5 linked regions of the Homo sapiens genome follow. The protein of the gene in region 1 purifies or fractionates together with the protein of each later gene. This does not show direct contact. Each region holds a gene or a part of one and is shown in the gene's direction. Other genes may lie near its edges. The genes, in order: MLXIPL, FBP2, CRY1, NR1H4 and FABP1.

What was found.
Region 2: the proteins of MLXIPL (region 1) and FBP2 purify together in Homo sapiens (affinity purification with mass spectrometry, with the first as the bait; one study listed by BioGRID). This does not show direct contact.
Region 3: the proteins of MLXIPL (region 1) and CRY1 purify together in Homo sapiens (affinity purification with western blotting, with the first as the bait; one study listed by BioGRID). This does not show direct contact.
Region 4: the proteins of MLXIPL (region 1) and NR1H4 purify together in Homo sapiens (affinity purification with mass spectrometry, with the first as the bait; one study listed by BioGRID). This does not show direct contact.
Region 5: the proteins of MLXIPL (region 1) and FABP1 purify together in Homo sapiens (affinity purification with mass spectrometry, with the first as the bait; one study listed by BioGRID). This does not show direct contact.

Annotation. Positions count from the first base shown.
Region 1 is NC_000007.14:73,596,723-73,600,757, reverse strand, and holds part of MLXIPL (carbohydrate-responsive element-binding protein), read left to right. Parts: intron 1-1,062; coding exon 1,063-1,232; intron 1,233-3,044; coding exon 3,045-3,576; intron 3,577-3,825; coding exon 3,826-3,893; intron 3,894-3,968; coding exon 3,969-4,035. UniProt on the Homo sapiens protein: Binds DNA as a heterodimer with MLX/TCFL4 and activates transcription. Binds to the canonical E box sequence 5'-CACGTG-3'. Plays a role in transcriptional activation of glycolytic target genes. Involved in glucose-responsive gene regulation.
Region 2 is NC_000009.12:94,583,628-94,587,662, reverse strand, and holds part of FBP2 (fructose-1,6-bisphosphatase isozyme 2), read left to right. Parts: intron 1-193; coding exon 194-356; intron 357-2,993; coding exon 2,994-3,086; intron 3,087-4,035.
Region 3 is NC_000012.12:106,992,322-106,996,356, reverse strand, and holds part of CRY1 (cryptochrome-1), read left to right. Parts: intron 1-3,320; coding exon 3,321-3,392; intron 3,393-3,466; coding exon 3,467-3,570; exon of another isoform or gene 3,571-4,035.
Region 4 is NC_000012.12:100,532,631-100,536,665, forward strand, and holds part of NR1H4 (bile acid receptor), read left to right. Parts: intron 1-2,259; coding exon 2,260-2,393; intron 2,394-3,876; coding exon of another isoform or gene 3,877-3,881; coding exon 3,882-3,980; intron 3,981-4,035. UniProt on the Homo sapiens protein: Ligand-activated transcription factor. Receptor for bile acids (BAs) such as chenodeoxycholic acid (CDCA), lithocholic acid, deoxycholic acid (DCA) and allocholic acid (ACA).
Region 5 is NC_000002.12:88,122,482-88,125,062, reverse strand, and holds the end of FABP1 (fatty acid-binding protein, liver), read left to right. Parts: intron 1-476; coding exon 477-569; intron 570-1,958; coding exon 1,959-2,009; 3' UTR 2,010-2,081; downstream 2,082-2,581.

The DNA of each region.
Region 1 (4,035 bases):
AGAGCCCACCCTTAGGCCCCTCTCGCCCCCACCCCACTCAGAGCCCACCCTTAGGGCCCCTCTCGCCCCCACCCCTTTCGGAGCCCAGCCTTAGGCCCCTCTCGCCCCCACCCCACTCGGAGCCCACCCTTAGGCCCCCTCTCATCCCCACCCTACTTGGAGCCCACCCTTAGCCCCTCTTGCCCCCACCCCACTTGGAGCCCAGTCTTAGGTCCCCCTTCACCCCCCCCCCACTTGGAGCCCACCCGTATCCCCCTCTTGCCCACACCCCACTCAGAACCCACCCTTAGGCCCCTCTCGCCCCCACCCCACTCAGAGCCCACCCTTAGCCCCTCTTGCCCACACCCCACTTGGAGCCCAGCCTTAGGCACCCCCCTCACCCCCATCCCACTCAGAGCCCACCCATATCTCCCTCTTGCCCACACACCACTCAGAGCCCACCCTTAGGCCCCTCTCGCCCCCACCCCACTCGGAGCCCAGCCTTAGGCCCCTCTCGCCCCATTACACTCTTCACCCCACTCCTAGGCTCCACCTGTTGACCTTCCAACAAACCAAGCTTGTCCCGGACCCAGTGACCTCACGTTCCCCCTCATCTCCAACTCACCCTCTTGAACTTCTGCCACCCTGGGGCCCCTCCCATGCCAGGCCTCCTCCCCTAGCACCGTACCCCTTTTCCACCCTGGCACTCGCTCTGGGCACCCCCTTTCTGCACCTCCAGCAGATCAGGGAAGGGGAGCCACCAGGGGGTGGGGAGGGGGACTTCCTGAGCTAAGCCTGGGGCTGGGGAGGGGAGGGGGCTCCTTCCTGGGGTCCCTGTTCACATCCACAGTCCCCTGCTCTCTCCCACGCAAGCTCATTCCACCCAAGACGGTTGCTGCTTCCCCTAATCGAGACAGAAACCCTCCCAGTTTCACAATCTTCTGTGGAAGGGACCCCCACCCTCTGCCCGCCAGTCCCCATGTCCCCACCCGCCAAGGCTGGGGACAGGCCACTCTCCTCTCAGCTGTTTCCCAGCCATAGCCCTGGCCCTAACTGCTGTTGCCCTGTGTGTCTGAATTACAGATTTCTTTACCAACTCCCGCCTCCCACAGCCGCCCATGCCTTCAAACTTCCCAGAGCCCCCCAGCTTCAGCCCCGTGGTTGACTCCCTCTTCAGCAGTGGGACCCTGGGCCCAGAGGTGCCCCCGGCTTCCTCGGCCATGACCCACCTCTCTGGACACAGCCGTCTGCAGGTGAGCTCACCCCACCCCGTCCAGCCCTGTGTAGCTCACTTGAGAGCTGTTCCTGCCCTGTTCATGTCCAGGAGGTATCAGACACTCCCTGAGTGCCCAGTCTTCTGCTTGGAGATTGGAGGGAAAGAAAGACCCCATCTCTGCCCTCTGGGAGGGACCCCGTGAAGCAGAACTGGACAAAACGGTTGTGGGAGAAAGCTAAGGGCATGGAGACCATGGAATGGGCTCCACCAAGGGCCAGTTGCTTGTGGAAGGCTTCCTGGAGAAGGGGAGTTTCTGGGCCTTAGAGAATAGGTCAGCTTTGGACAGAAGGGACTGGCTGACCTCAAGCCAGATGGGAGAACAGCAGGAACAAAAGCTTCGAGGCAGAAAGCTGAGCGTGGATGTTTAGGAAACAGTGAATCTACCATTTTGGTTCATCAATTCCCCATATGCAATTCTTTTTTTTTTTTTTCTTTGAGACAGAGTCTCACTCTGTCGCCTAGGCTCGAGTGCAGTGGCATGATCTCGGCTCACTGTAACCTCCGCCTCCCGTGTTCAAGCGATTTCCGGCTTATTTTTGTATTTTTAGTAGAGACAGGGTTTCACCATGTTGCCCAGGCTGGTCTCAAACTCCTGACCTCAGTAGTCCGCCCGCCTCGGCCTCCCAAGGTGGTGGGATTACAGGTGTGAGCCACCACACCTGGCCCCCAGGTGCAGTTCAGAAGTTGCTTCCTGCTGCTTGGTTATAGGCCTTTTCCCTCCATCATCAGACTTTTCAGGTGCTAATTCTAATCGGTTGCTGAGGGGTGTCTCTCCTCCATCAGACAGTGAGCTCCTTACTGAAAGGGTTATGTTTTGCTCACCACTGCATTCTCTATACCTAATACAGCTCAGGCACATAACAGCACTCAGTGAATGGTTGTCCAATGAGTGAGTCAGTGACTGAATGAATGAGCAAGTGTGCAGATGAATGGGCGTGCTGGTGAATGGATAGATGCATCTTAGACTGCGGTGGAGGCACACGTGGGTTGGTGGATATATGGGTAGGTGAGTGGTTGGGTGGATGGGTGGGCTGGTGGATGGATACATAGATGAATAGTTTAATGGATTAGTGAATGGGTTCATTGGTGGTTAAGTGGCTGGAAATGTATAGATGGTGGATGGATGGAAGGATTATGGATGGGTTGGTGGATGAATGATGGAAGTATAGATGGTTGGATGGATTAGTTAATATGTTAATATCTGGTAGGCTGGTGGAGAGAGTGGTAGATGAGCTGGTTCATAGATTGATAAATAGGTAGGTGAATGGATGGAAGACGGATGGATGGAGAGATTGGTGGATGAAGTAGTAGATGGACAATTGATGAATGGATGGGTGGGTTGGTTAGTGGATGGATTGGTGAAGTTAGTGGATGGATGATGAAGGAATGGTAGGTTGGTTGGTGGATGGATCAGTGGACAAGTTAGTGGATGGATGGATGATGAATGGATGGGTGAGTTGGTTGGTGGATGGATTGGTGGACAAGTTAGTGGATGGATGGATGAATAAGTTATTTGGGAGACAAATGGACGGGCAGGAAGATTGATGCTCCGCTGTTCCTGCTTTTTGCATAAATGTACTCGACTCCCTCCTCTCATTGTAATTTCCCTGCTGCATGTATATGTTCGCACACCTGTGTGTGTTGGAAGGCAGGGCTCATTTCTCCTATCTCTCCCCAGGGCCCCAGTCTAGAGTTTGGCCAGGGCAAGGCAGGGCAGGGGAGGCCCAGATGGCTGCCAGGGGCAGCTCTCTCCCCTGCTCTCTGAGTGTCTGTCTGTCCCCCCAACCAGGCTCGGAACAGCTGCCCTGGCCCCTTGGACTCCAGCGCCTTCCTGAGTTCTGATTTCCTCCTTCCTGAAGACCCCAAGCCCCGGCTCCCACCCCCTCCTGTACCCCCACCTCTGCTGCATTACCCTCCCCCTGCCAAGGTGCCAGGCCTGGAGCCCTGCCCCCCACCTCCCTTCCCTCCCATGGCACCACCCACTGCTTTGCTGCAGGAAGAGCCTCTCTTCTCTCCCAGGTTTCCCTTCCCCACCGTCCCTCCTGCCCCAGGAGTGTCTCCGCTGCCTGCTCCTGCAGCCTTCCCACCCACCCCACAGTCTGTCCCCAGCCCAGCCCCCACCCCCTTCCCCATAGAGCTTCTACCCTTGGGGTATTCGGAGCCTGCCTTTGGGCCTTGCTTCTCCATGCCCAGAGGCAAGCCCCCCGCCCCATCCCCTAGGGGACAGAAAGCCAGCCCCCCTACCTTAGCCCCTGCCACTGCCAGTCCCCCCACCACTGCGGGGAGCAACAACCCCTGCCTCACACAGCTGCTCACAGCAGGTGAGGGCCAGCAACGGGGAGAGGAAAGCCTGGGGAGGGAGGCCAGGGGGTGGGGAGGACAGGGGGTTTTGGGAGCAGAAGATGAAGGTGAAGGGGCAGGTCCAGTTCAAGGGACAGAGTGGCAAGGAATGAGGGATGTGGGGCCTGTACCTAAAAGGGGTGTGGACTCTTGGGAGGGGCAGGATGGGGTCTTGATAGATGCCGGGGGTGGGCCAGCCCCAGTAGCCTCACGGTTCTGCCCGTGCACAGCTAAGCCGGAGCAAGCCCTGGAGCCACCACTTGTATCCAGCACCCTCCTCCGGTCCCCAGGGTCCCCGGTAAGATCTCGGGCACTGGGCGGTGGGGCTGTGCCCACGGCCTTCAACCCGACTCTCCGCCCTTCTCCACCCCAGCAGGAGACAGTCCCTGAATTCCCCTGCACATTCCTTCCCCCGACCCCGGCCCCTACACCGCCCCGGC
Region 2 (4,035 bases), on another chromosome or scaffold:
CTCCAAGGTGTAAGGGAGGCAAGGCTGAGAGGTATCCTGCCAGGCATAATCGCCTTCTTCTGCACGTGTGACTTGGAGACTCCAGAGACACAGAACGAGAGGGGACTGCACTGCTGGCGTTTTAGGGTCCCAGGCTCTTTGCTGGAGTTAAGACCCCCTAGTGACTTCCTCATTCAGCCTTTTGTCTTCTCAGGTATGGAATCGCAGGAAGCGTTAACGTGACGGGAGATGAGGTGAAGAAACTGGATGTGCTATCCAATTCCCTGGTGATCAACATGGTCCAATCCTCCTATAGTACCTGCGTCCTGGTCTCAGAAGAGAATAAGGACGCCATCATCACCGCCAAGGAGAAGCGGGTGCGTCATGGGGCTGCGGTGCCCGCTCGCCAGTAGATGATGATACTGAGCCGGAAATAAGCTGCCTTACTTTTCTTTAATTCCCGGGATTCTCCTCTATTTCTTAACATTTGTTTTCTGGAAACAAAGGATTACATACTTCTCTACTTGGAAATCTTGTGCTGTCTAGAGAAAGAAGACTCCACAGTAGGACAGTGATTCATTCAGGAAATTGTTCAGAGTGATGCAGGAACCGCCTCAGTGGGCGCTTGTTCGTGGCTGTTCACTTAATCAGTAACAAGAGCCAAATTTTTGGGGGCTTAACCTTGTGGAGTCCAGGGAAGAGCTGTACTGTACAGCCTCTCACCGCCCCGCCTTCTCATTCCACCCCCGCCCCCAGCCGGCACTTTGCGAGGGGTTACAGTTTCAGCAGAGATTTCTTAGTGCCTGACAAGCTGTTAGACTGGTCCAGAAACAAAACCACAAGCCTCCTGTGCTCTTACCTCGTAGGATGGTGAAGTCGGTGAAGGAAGGCACGGCTGGGGAGGGTCTGCATTCACTATGGGTTCACACACAGCTTATTATACAGAGAGGTTTGCCAATGGCCAAAAGTTTCAATCAATGTTCAGCTGCAATATAGTCAATAGACAAGAGGCCATTTCTTTGTGATTAGCTGGAGGAATGGAAAAGAATTTAAAGTAAAGCCAAATTTATTTAACCTCTGCTCTATGCCAGGTACTGCAAAAGGCACTTTTGCCCTCGTCTCACATAATTTTAGCTACATCACACTATTACTTCCAACTTTCAGTTTCAGTTGATATGACTCTTGTTTCTCTCTCCAGTCTGATCTACCATTGTCTTCTCCTATTGGCCTAAGCCACATAGCCACATAGGTCTTCATGTCAGTTCCTTTATTTATTTATTTACTTATTTATTTATTTTTTTGAGACGGAGTCTTGCTCTACTGCCCGGCTGGACAGGCTGGAGTGCAATGGCGCAATCTCAGCTCACTGTAACCTCTGCCTCCCGGGTTCAAGCAATTCTCCCGCCTCAGCCTCCTGAGTAGCTGGGATTACAGGCATGCGCCACCATGCCCCGCTAATTTTTGTGTTTTTAGTAGAGACGGGGTTTCGCCATGTTGGCCAGGCTGGTCTTGAACTCTGACCTCAGGTGATCCACCCGCCTCAGGCTCCCAAAGTGCTGGGATTACAGGCGTGAGCCACCATGCCTGGCCCGTGGCAGCTCTTGAATACTCCAAACCTGCTGATCTCTCTGTCGAAAATTCTTCTTTCTAGGATGGGCGCGGTGGCTCACGCCTGCAATCCCGGTGCTTTGGGAGGCTGAGGTGGGAGGATTGCTTGAGCTCAGGAGTTTGAGACCAGCCTAGGCAACATAAAGATACAAAAGATAAAAATTTAGCTCGGCATGGTGGTGTGCACCTGTAGTCCCAGCTACTCGGGAGTCTGAGGTGGGAGAATTGCTTGAGCTCAGGAGTTTGAGACCAGCCTAGGCAACATAAAGATACAAAAGATAAAAATTTAGCTCGGCATGGTGGTGTGCACCTGTAGTCCCAGCTACTTGGGAGTCTGAGGTGGGAGGATTGCTTGAGCCCAGGATCTCTAGGCTGCAGCGAGCTCTGACCACACCACTGCACTCCATCCTGGGCAACAGAGTGAGACTCTGTCAAAACAAAACAAAAACAAGAAAACAAACAATTTTGCTTTCTAGGTCTCTGTGTGTTTCTTCATTCCTTAATTCTAGTCAGGTCTGTCATCAAATGTGACCCCCCCTCATGGCTCTCCAGCCCCCAGCCTATGTGGGTTTTCGTTAGGGCACGTGCCACAGCCTGCTTGTATGTGTCCTGACCTGTGTGCTCTCTGTCTGTTCTCCCACTGGAATGTCAGTGCCATGAAATCCAGCCTTGCTGCCGGGATCGCTGACCCCCCGGAAACAAACCCCAGGGCCTTGAACACTTACTTCCCAGCATATGCTGGAAGCTCAACATGTATCTGCTGAATGCATGCATGCATGAATGAATGGGCTAAATTGGATTTTTTTTTAAAAAATTGGATTATTATAGAGATGTTGGGGAATTTCCAAGTTTACAAATTATCTAACTTTTCTACTCTGGCTGAGCAAGGAAAAAAAACAGAAACAAAGCTCAAATGAAGCTAGGCCAATACTCATTGGAAAGTCAGGGAAAACTAAATCAAGTGGAGGGAGAAATGACCCTCATTTCTCTTGAAGTTGCATTACCCGTGTTTAATTGGCCTGGGGGTTCCGGTCGCCATCACTAAGGGTCTCTCGTGACCTTGCACACAGGGGGCTATAAAAAGGACCTGGGGCTTCCCTTGGTGGCTTGAGCTGCCTGTGACAGCAGAGTGGGTGGGTGTGGGGGACGTTGGTCTCTCAAGACACACCCACTTTATCTTCTGGTCTTCGCATCAGACAGGTGAGATGGATACAAAACCCAGAGGAGTATTTGTGTATAAACTGGCACCCTGCCCTCCGTAAGTCATGGTGTTTTTTGATAAAGATATGCTGTGGTTCTCAATCTCTTTTTGATGTGGTGTACTCTGCCACGCACAGCCCTGACACAGAGCAATTGTGCTAATGGGAAGATGTGCTGATCAGTTGGTGCTTTCCTCTCTGATTTAGGGGAAATACGTGGTCTGCTTTGACCCACTGGATGGATCTTCCAATATTGACTGCCTGGCCTCCATCGGAACCATCTTTGCCATCTATAGAAAGGTGAGTAGACAGGCTGACATTTTACACCTCCTTCCTGTGGTGGTCTCTGGAAGGTTCCTGGGCTGAAAACCGTGTGTTTGGAGTCCTACCCTTTGTCTTCCCACTAACGAGAAAAGCCACTGTAGGCAAACCACCAACTTTTCTCTGCCTGGGGCTCCTCATTAGAAGAACTGGATTGGCGATTCTTTCTCTGCCTACTTTCTGGCATTCCTGGGAGGGTAACACAGAAGGACAGCTGAGATCTTGTTTTGAAAGTCTGGGTGCAACACAAATGTCAGACATGGCATTAGGTTCCAGGTGGCATTCTGAATCTCTGACATCCTCTCCCCCTCTTGCCTCATCTCTCCTGTCCCCAGCCACAGAAAGTTTTCTGCTAACGCTCATTGGATTAGATTGAACTAATCTAACCTGGAAGGTCCACGGTGATCTCCCTATTTGAAATCTGAACCCCTGAGTACACCTGAAAAGTCTTTGTTGCCATGTAATGCTGGGTATTCACAGATCCTGGGGACTGGCATATCTTTTGGGCCATTCTGCCTACCCTGAAATCCTAGCAACAGAGAGCTGGGTGGGTTTGTGACATCCAGCAGGACTAGAAACTTCACAATTCAGAAAACTTGTCCTTCATTCTATATAAAGTGTACAACGGCAATAAAATCCATAGCAACCTCGCCAGCTGCGGTGGCTCACGCCTGTAATCCCAGAACTTTGGGAGGCTGAGGCGGGCGGATCACTTGAGGCCTTGAGGCTAGGTGGTCGAGACCAGTCTGGGAAACATGGTGAAACCCCGTCTCTACTAAAAATACAAAAATTAGCCAGGGTGATGGTGCACGCCTGTAATTCCAGCTACTCAGGAGGCTGAGGCAAGAGAATTGCTTGAACCCAGGAAGTGCAGGTTGCAGTGAGCTGAGATCATGCCACTGCACTCCAGCCTGGGTGACAGAGCAAG
Region 3 (4,035 bases), on another chromosome or scaffold:
AAGAAAATGTGGTACATATGTACCATGAAATACTATGCAGCCATAAAAAGGAACGAGATCATGTTCTTTGCAGGGACATGATGGAGCTTGTAGCCATTATCCTCAGCAAACTAAGGCAGGAACAGAAAACCAAACACCTCATGTTCTTGCTTGTAAGTGGAAGTAGAATGATGAGAACACATGGATACATGCGGAGAACAACACATACTGGGGCCAGGTGCAGTAGCTCACACTTGTAATCCCAGCACTTTGGGAGGCCGAGGTGGGTGGATCACCTGAGGTTGGGAGTTTGAGACCAGCCCCTGACCAACATGGAGAAACCCCCGTCTCTACTAAAAAGACAAAATTGGCCGGGCGTGGTAGCGCATGCCTGTAATCCCAGCTACTTGGGAGGCTGAGGCAGGAGAATCACTTGAACCCAGGAGGCAGAGGTTGTGGTGAGCTGAGATCGCGCCATTGCACTCCAGCCTGGATAACAAGAGCAAAACTCCATCTCAAAAACAAAAAACAACAAAACACACATGCTGGGGTCTGTTGGGGGGGCAGGGGCAGGGAGAGCATTAGGAAGAATAGCTAATGCATGCTGGTCTTAATACCTAGGTGATGGGTTGATCTGTGCAGCAAACCCCCATGGCACATGTTTGCCTATGTAACAAACCTGCACATCCTGCACATGTACCCCAGAACTTAAAATAAAAATTGAAGGGAAAAAAAAGAAAAAAGAAATCTATACATGTGATAAAAGAGCATAAAATCATACAAACACTTTGTATCAATGTCAATACCTGGTTATATTGTTGTACTGTAGTTTCATAAGATGTCACTAAGAAGATAGGGAAACAGGACCTCTTTGTACTAACTTTACAACTGTTTGTGAATCTATATTTTTCAAAATAAAAAAAACAGGATAAAAACAGGGTAGCATTTGAGGAATGCTTTTTTAAGTCAGATGTTCTAAGTTGATATTAAGAATAAAACCTTTTAAAAACTGAACCTTTTTGAATTCAGAAATGTCCTGCATCCTCATGAAAACAGCATGTATTTTATCCTCCAAGAATTAGTTTTGGGAGAAGGGGACAAAAGCACTCACATTTTGACTGCCTACCTTTGCCCAGTAGATAGTAAGGGATTTTTGCATACTTTCTCACAGTAACCTGGGGAGGAGGTAGTGGGATCCTCATTTTATATTTGGGGAAATAATCCTAGAAAGATTAGGTAACTTAACCAAGATCCCACAGTTAGTAAGTAGTTGAGCTAAGATTCAGATCCAAGTCTGACTAGCTCCAAAGCTTGTACTTCTTCCTGCATCATTGGGCCTCCTCTGCAAATGGAATGCCATAAGTGTTTACAAGAGAAAATATTTTATTCCTGGAATGTGATCCACCCAGCAGTCGACAGTTGCCAGTGATGGCAGTATACTTGAGAAATGTTCCTTCTCAGTATCTCCTACAATTTGAATAAACTTCCACAAGATAATCATTTCAAAAGTTCTTTCAGATCTCTTGTTCAGTTCACAGCCTGCCTTGTCAGCCCACACATGAGTGAGGGACAGAAGCTCTGTGAAGCACTAAGATAACAGGCAGGTAGCAATGGGCTAGGAACCAAGGGTTGGGCTAATACACAATGATGGCACAGACTGCTTCTTAGACCACTCAAACCTGTGTCGTTTATTTGGAATTATCTTCAAAAGCTAATCATAGTAGCAGGTTAAATTGGGACAATTTTGCTTCACAAATGTATATAGGGTAGTTTATTATATAATAGAAGAATTAATAAATCTTGAAATTATTTTAATCATGTAAATATTTGCCTGTAACATAGTTTGTAGCCAGCTTCTTGGAGGCTTTCAAAAGACATGAGACATGAAAAGCTAAGTAGAACTTAAGTATAAATGGGGGTGTGGAGGGAAAACAAAAACAAATGAAAAAGTGATAAATTATAAGATGCTGCCTCCATGTGCAATATGAGAAAAGGGAGAGATTATTGAGAGCTGAAGGGACTAGAGAAACTTTCTTGAAAGGTGGCAGGATTGAGTAGCATTTGGGTAGTCAGATGAAGGAAAAAAACATTTTAGACCTGGAAATGGGAAATTGTGAAAAGACACGGCTTGGGCTATGCTATTAATATTAAACATTTCTCCTCTCAGGTTTCTGCCCCATTTGAAAGGACTTAAATGCTTCTAAAGCATATCCTTTTATGCCTTACACTTATCCTGTCTGTAGGCTTTTATAGTACCTTACAAGGCATGTCAAAGGGCAAAATTCTTTTACTTGTCTTAGTTTTTTGTTTGTTTGTTTTTGTTTGTTTTTTTAATGACTGTGGAACATTCTTAATCTCTGCAACACAAATTGCATTTTTCTCTGCTCATCTTTGTATTTGTGTGTGTGTGCACATGTGCTCAGGAAAGGAATAAACTATACATAGAAGTCTTACTTTTGTTCTTATAATAAAACAGACTGTAATATGTTTACTACTGTAGCAATATGTTTTAGTTTTTATTTAACTTTTAGGTTTTTTTATTGTAAAATATCAGTTCATCGGCATTATTAGTCATTAGGGAAATGCAAATTAAAACAACTATGGGATAGTACTTCATACTCACTTAGGGTGAGCAACTGCCACTGATTGCCTGGGATTGAAGTTAATTAAAACGAAAGTAAGTGCACAGTCTTGTTCAGGCCATAAGGTGTTGACCTATCCACCTGCTCGTGGATAGGTCCAGAATGCTCATATTTTTCCATAAACTGGACACACTGACAGAAATGTTTCCCTAAAACATACTTCTCTGTTCTAGCCAACCTATTCTCCTATAATAGTGTTTGTTTTTAGAAGGGTTGATAGGATTGCTTAGGCTAGGTAACTGCCACATAGTCTGTGTCTTCTGCTTGTCGTATGATTTGAATTGTTTAACTCATCGGGCAGGCCCTTATTCCCTTATCCTCAAGGAAATATGTTTGGAGGAGCTCTGAAGGAAAAGCGTGGGAAAAGGGACAAGAGTGAGGGAGGAATGTCTATCTCACTCTTGCCCCTATGTTTTACCTTCATGGTCAAGTTTCAAATTGTCATCTAGTAAGGAAATGTTTTTTAGAAAATGATCATCAATGATTTTTCCTTTGAGCTGTCAACACTTCTGTGAGCCTAAATTTAAGTTTTCCTGGTTTGAGCATGTGATTTTTGGTTCATAGGAAGATTGAGATTTAGTCTTAAAAGCATATAAATGACCTTAAGTACAAGCGCTAAAAGTTGGATTTGTAGACTTAATAATACATACATCTTGGATTTGATTTTAAGTAATTTTACTGTGTTTTAAATACTAACAGGTTGCTCTCAAGGGAGTGGTATTTTACACTATGCTCATGGCGACAGTCAGCAAACTCACCTGTTGAAGCAAGGTAAGAATGAAGCATTGGAGCATACTGTTCTTTTTCCTTTTCCTATCTTAAACATACATTTTTTAAATGTGCAGGAAGAAGCTCCATGGGCACTGGTCTCAGTGGTGGGAAACGTCCTAGTCAGGAAGAGGACACACAGAGTATTGGTCCTAAAGTCCAGAGACAGAGCACTAATTAGGTAAATATTTTAGAGCTGTATTTCTTGCTTTAGAAGAGTATATAATTAACATAAATTAAGATAATTTCAAAAATGGAGCAAATCTCTATTTTCAAACCAGAAAATCTTGAGGCATTAATTTTTAAGCAATTTTTACAAACTCAGTTAATTTTTGGTCAAGAGACATGCATCTGTACTGGAGAAATTGTTGCACCAGTTTTATATTCATCTGAACCAATGCTCTTTAAATTAGAGATGTTTATGATTTTGTGGTCAAGTTTTTTCTTAGAAAAAGACAACTTTTTTATTTCCTTACTATGTAACTATGAGTCTAAAACAATTAAAGTGGCCTGTTTATTTTAGTGACATTAATATAATCTTTTTATGAACTTTCCCCTAAATCTTTGCCTCTTAAATGTTGATAAATTTCTTTTATCTGTTATGATGCTTCTAAAATCTAAATTATTTCCAATTTGGGAATAGTTC
Region 4 (4,035 bases), on another chromosome or scaffold:
CATTTCACTAAAAATCTCTTAAGGAGGCAGATGTCAGGTAACTCATCACGAGAGTGCTACTTCACATATTAAAGAAGGAACCTACTAAGCCATCTAAGTTCTTGAAAAGGGTAATGAACCACTGAAATTGTCCAAACTGTCAACTAAAGAGCATTTTAGTCACCCGAAAGAAATGGGTTTTTTTTGTTGTTTTTCTTTGTCGCAGTGAACTATACATGGAGCCCAGTGGCATTAACATACCATTCAAATAATGTGCTTTAATGAGCTACGAATGACATCTAAAAGTTTCCTCTAAATTTGATTTTAATATACTTATTATTTATTGCTTAATTAGCATACAAATTCACTATTGTGGAAAAAAATGAGAATGCTTTATAAGGTATAACTGCCTCTGAATTGTCTAAATAGAGTTCTAAACCAAGTCATTTTATTAAGGATCTGTCTTCTCTTAGTGCAGCTTTGAACCAATTTGTATAGGTTTACACAGGAAATTAACTACTCCCAGTTTTAATATAATTTTGTCTTTCTATCTGATAAAGAGACACTGTATTAACTGCTGGCTTTGTGAGGAACTGTAATCTTCATCAAAAATTGGAATGCATGCTAGTATATAACATAATTAATTTTTCATTCTGCAAATTCTACAGACCACTCAGATTCTGAGATATGTCCTGTTTCTCCTCAAAACACAAATAGACAAATGTCACCAAGGGGATGACAGCATTCAGGCAGGGAATGCCAAATGAAATAAAAGCCTTCAGAAGGTGACTCCAGTTCTATTGTTACCAAACTGTACGGGCAACTGGGATGGACCCAGGGAAATAATGCATGCAGGTTGGGGGAAAATAGGTCTGTGTAAATAATCCAGCTCTGGGTGGATGAAAATTTTATAGTAGCTGATCACAATCTCATCTTAGCATACATGAAATGAGAACCTGCAATAGGGGCTGCTGCTGGAATCCAATCTTGCAATGGAAACACTTACTCTGACACTGCACAGCTCATATAGCTCATCACTTAAATATGAACTTGTTCCAGCTGGAGCGCTGAGGACATTTTGCATGAAGCCACATATAGCAGTCTATAATATTTATGAACACAAACTCATCCAGTAACAGATGCGGATATTTCATGGTTCTATAAAATAAATTCCCTGTACAAAGAAATTCCTGGAACTTTGTTTTATTGGCATTGAGAAAAGAGTAAGGACGTTAAATGGGATGAAGGGAAGATTGTTTTACATTATTTTTAATAGCTCTCTTTTTTTTTTTTTTGTTGAGACGGAGTCTCGCTCTGTCGCCCAGGCCGGACTGCGGACTGCAGTGGCGCAATCTCGGCTCACTGCAAGCTCCGCTTCCCGGGTTCACGCCATTCTCCTGCCTCAGCCTCCCGAGTAGCTGGGACTACAGGCGCCCGCCACTGCGCCCGGCTAATTTTTTGTATTTTTAGTAGAGACGGGGTTTCACCTTGTTAGCCAGGATGGTCTCGATCTCCTGACCTCATCCACCCGCCTCGGCCTCCCAAAGTGCTGGGATTACAGGCGTGAGCCACCGCGCCCGGCCTTAATAGCTCTCTTTAAGTGTAAATCAATGAGGTTGATTGTATGATCATTCAAAGACATTTTAAAAGTCACCTTGTATTATTTTTATTTTTAACTGTATTCTCAGGAATTGGCACTGTTCTTAAAATTAACAGGATTTTAAAAATTTCCCTAAAGGATGTTAACATTTGTTTTTCTCAATAAGTTTATATGTATTTAATGTGAAATTCAATATCCTTCTTCTGGTACAGTATGTAAACATGGATGAAAATAATATTAATGGCATGTTTTAAAACACCAATTTTCACAGTCCCCTAGAGCAGGAACAGGGAGAGTGTCATTCACCTTTTCATTGACTGAATCCCTTGCATTTGTACAATGCTTTCATATCACAAGTTCTTTATATAAAGCTCATTTAAAAATGATTATTGCTTTTATTTTGTGTAGATTATTGCTTTTAATCTACACAAAACTCTATGAGGTAGATATTATTCCCATTTTACAAATGAGGAAACTGAGACTCACAGAGGTTAAACTACTTGTTCAAGGTTAAGTCTCAAACCTTGGCCTTCCCTTTCTAAAATGCATAAAAGGCTAGCGTTAGTTCTGTGCCATTGCATAGGGGATCTTCTGGGCCAGGTACATATCAGTGGTTTTATGACCACACACCCAACAGTACTTTCTGTGATTGGTGAAGTCTCTATGCTTATTTGTTTTAGGCTTGTTAACTGAAATTCAGTGTAAATCTAAGCGACTGAGAAAAAATGTGAAGCAGCATGCAGATCAGACCGTGAATGAAGACAGTGAAGGTCGTGACTTGCGACAAGTGACCTCGACAACAAAGTCATGCAGGGTAATAATATGCAATGGTGTCTGCCAAGACTGGCAGGAACTGAGTTTCTAGGTACATAGTGAGCTGGCCAGGAGGCTTTCAAATTAAAGCCACAGGCACAGCTGAATTTCTAGTCCAATTGTTCATTAAAATGGATTCCTAATACATGCTTTGATGTAAACATTCAAATAGTAGCAATGCATAAACTAAAAAGTGAAAGTTTTCCTTCTCTCTGACTCCATTCCAGTCCTACTACCTAGTGTTTGCCAGCAGAAATGATTTGGTGTATAAAATGGATTTTTTCCAACTGAGTATTGATGACCATTTTTTCCCTCTTTTTGAGAAGACAGTCTCAAACTGGGAAGAACATGGTCTCAATAGAGGCTGTGGATTAATCCTTATAAATGAGTAAAACAGGGTGAATACACGTATGTGGATGAATAGAGAAAAGTCCTACCCACTGGGGTTACAAATTTCTCAAGAAATCCATTGAGCAACTTAGGACAAAATAGGGGAACAGCATCCAAGGTGTTTAGACACACACATTGTGATAATGCACAGGACATTTGATGGAATTTTATTTTGCCATTAGCTGAAAAACCAGTAAGCTATGATTGTCCAAACCACACCCTTCTCAATATTTATTACATTATTGACAAAGAAAACTTTATCCACATTTAGTTTTACAAATACGTATTTTTGTATTTATTTAAGAAAAAGTATTTTATATGAAAGCATTATTTTGCCATAGTGCTTCATCAGTAACACTTTGGTATAAGAAAACAAAGAGTTGACATAATTATTCACACTCTTCAAAAGATGCTGTAGAGGGAGAAAGAGATGTTTGGGGTCTGAATTGTCCAGATTGTTGACTCTCTATTTTAGGGGTTGACAAACTTTTTTTCTTTAAAGGGCTTTGGCCACATGGTATCTACAACAGCTACTCAACTCTGCCATTTTAGTGCAAAAGTAGCAGAGACAATACATAAACAAATGAGTGTGACTGTGTTCCAATAAAACTTTATAAAATCCAATGGATTTGGTCCATGGGCCACAGTTTGTTGATCCCTCCTCCACATGAATACTCTCAGATGACTTCACCAGGTGGAATTCATGTAGAATAGTATATGAATATAGTATTCATAGTAGTCATACTATATGAAAACCTTTCATTAGTTATAATTAAAGCTTGAACTTTCAGTGACCTTCAATATGAATGGGCTCAATAGTCTTCATATCCAGACTACCATTTATTCCTAAGAAATACACAAGTGGAATATTTTGTTATTCATATTTTATAGATAGGAAAATTCAGTGAAATGTGATATGGCCTGCCTGAGGACCCAGAGAAAGAAATTATACACTCTCTTAGAACTCATAGTTCCTGCTGTATTTATGCCTTTTTTTTTTTATGATTTCTGCTATTAGGTCCCTCCAGATGAATGCACATATAGAAAGAAGGCTTTATACACATCTTCCCTAACACCTTTTATTTTCTTGCCAGTGTAGGAGAAAACTGAACTCACCCCAGATCAACAGACTCTTCTACATTTTATTATGGATTCATATAACAAACAGAGGATGCCTCAGGAAATAACAAATAAAATTGTATGTATAATATCTGAAAATATGTGGGTTTAAAGTTAATATTTTCTGGAGTTTT
Region 5 (2,581 bases), on another chromosome or scaffold:
TGAAGTGAAAGGACTGTTTGAGCCTAGGAGTTCAAGACCAGCCTGGGCAACATAGCAAGACCTCATCTCAATTAAAAAAAAAAAAAAAAGAAGAATACATACCAAAGCAAAATATGTATTCTCTACTGGTCAATATTTGAATTTTGCCACTACCTCCCTCCATTAGCTTGGGAGAATTGAGATTTTACTTGATTTGATTTTAGCATTTGTATTTGGGGCCACTTAGGTGTTCCATGCTCATTTCTAGATCACATGCCATGAATTAAAGTTCTGACAAAAGAAGTCGTGACATTTTATTTAGTTCTTAAATGCACCTCACTTCTATTTGGAGCCAGAGAACTAGAGGCTTGGGATCATAGGAACCAGAGCATTTTGGTTGTTATGAGCTGAGACCTGTGCAAAGGAAGCAACTTCATTAGCAAGGCTCTTGCCCCCCACCACCCCTTCCTCACAGGTCACCTCTCTGTTCCCTGCAGACAGTGGTTCAGTTGGAAGGTGACAATAAACTGGTGACAACTTTCAAAAACATCAAGTCTGTGACCGAACTCAACGGCGACATAATCACCAATGTAAGTTGGTGGTGCTCTGAGCGTGTGGCTCCCAGTGCTTGAGGGGAGAGGGGAGGTGAAGCATGGGGAGCGGCTCACATACCCTAATGCCACCCCTCCACCCTCCAACCCCCAAACTTCTTTCCTGTGGTCAGTATCTGCCAGCACTTACTGAGGATCCATCATGTCCCAGGCAGTTTACACACATTATCACTAATCCTTTCTGCTCAGCGCAACCAACCAGCCACAGAGGCCTCCACCTGCCCTGCATGCCCAGGGTGCTTCATAAATGCCTTTGCCCATTTAGCGTTTATAAAGAGAATCCCATTCATGGTCATATTATGGCAGCTTACAAGCCTGGCACAGTCCAGTTATGCAGTCAGCCTTGGTGCCTGGCTGCCAGCCACATCCTGTACCCTATTTGGGGGTGAATGGTGCAGTGTTTCTCCTGCAGGTATGTCCCCCTGACTCTTCTTTGCCCCCAGAATATGCTTTAGGGAGTCACAGACAACAGAACACTGCCTCAGGGCGCTGTCATCACTCTATTCAAATGGAAAAATTCTTAAACTAGAGAGAGTGTGAGCATCAACCACCCAATGTGCAGTTTCCACCTCCGCCCCAGCACATTCCCAGGAGAGCAGGGGAGCAGGAGATGAGCTATCCTGCAGTAAGTCCTGGCCAACGCCCTTTGATAGGTTCCATCTCACCTAATCCTCCTGTCTCCTTCGAGGGAGGCTGGATGAGGGATTCAATAGACAGGTTGACCTGTCCAAGTCATCAGCTAATAAATGTTAAATCCAGGGCTCAAACCCATCAAGCAGCAACTATTGCATTGCTGCTGAAACTGAGGGGCTCCTTTTCACCCTGATGACATGGTATGTCATTCCAGCAGTCTTATTCAAGAGAACTGGCAGGGGTGGAGGAAACATCCTTAAAAACTCAAAAGCTGATGCATCCACTGTTTTTATATGCTTCACAGCTATAGGAGGACAATTATGCACTACCCACTGCCTTCCAGGCTGTGTGCCTAGTTGTGTCCATGTACATGTATCCTTGGTGCTCAACATGTATTTGGTGCATAGTAGGTACTCAATGAAATTTTGAGAAATTAGATTGGGCTGGTTTGGATGGTCTTGCTATAACAGTCATTGATGTAGAAAAGAATTCAGTCAAAGGCAGGAGGACTTTCCAGGTGAGGAGGAGAAGTGACAAAGACTTGGCATAGGATTTTGGAAAACATTGCCAACCTTTCCTCCGGTCCTACAGGAAACCAGACGAATTTTTGAATTGTTTCATATGCCAACATATTTGGTGCTGTTTTTTAAGCTTAATTTTGTTTTTTATGCTTAATTTTGTTTTTTACAATACAACATCAGATGAACACTTCATAATTTCTTTTCTGGCTTTCAGACCATGACATTGGGTGACATTGTCTTCAAGAGAATCAGCAAGAGAATTTAAACAAGTCTGCATTTCATATTATTTTAGTGTGTAAAATTAATGTAATAAAGTGAACTTTGTTTTAAAAAAAAATGTCTTCTCAATGCCTTTTCATTGATGGTGCTATTGCTCACCATATTCTCGTAAATATACTTTCGTAAATGTTGATAATCCACATGATCCACACTACCAGGTCAAATCCGAAGAGTAATTCCCTGAACACAAAACCCATGCTGCACACCCAGGTGTTCTGCCAGGAAAGCCAGGTGTGGCTAGATCTGCAGGAAGGCCCTGGAATGCCCTTTCCCAGTCAGGCACACGGGCAAGGAGCTGGAGCCAGAGGATGTGCAGTGGGCTGGCCTTGAGGGTGCTCTCTGTGGGGACAGGGAGCAGGAAGACTGGGCAGAAAAGGAGAGCTATACCCACAAGCACAGCCACAGTACCAGCCCACCAGCAGACAGGTGCAGAAAGGTCGACACTGACCCGCCCAATAAACTTTTCCTCCTGTGGGAGGCTGAGCAAAGGGCTTAGTGAGAGGCGCCAGAAGTGGACAGAGGAGGCTCAGTGGAAGTTCCCTCCATGCTATGGGCAGG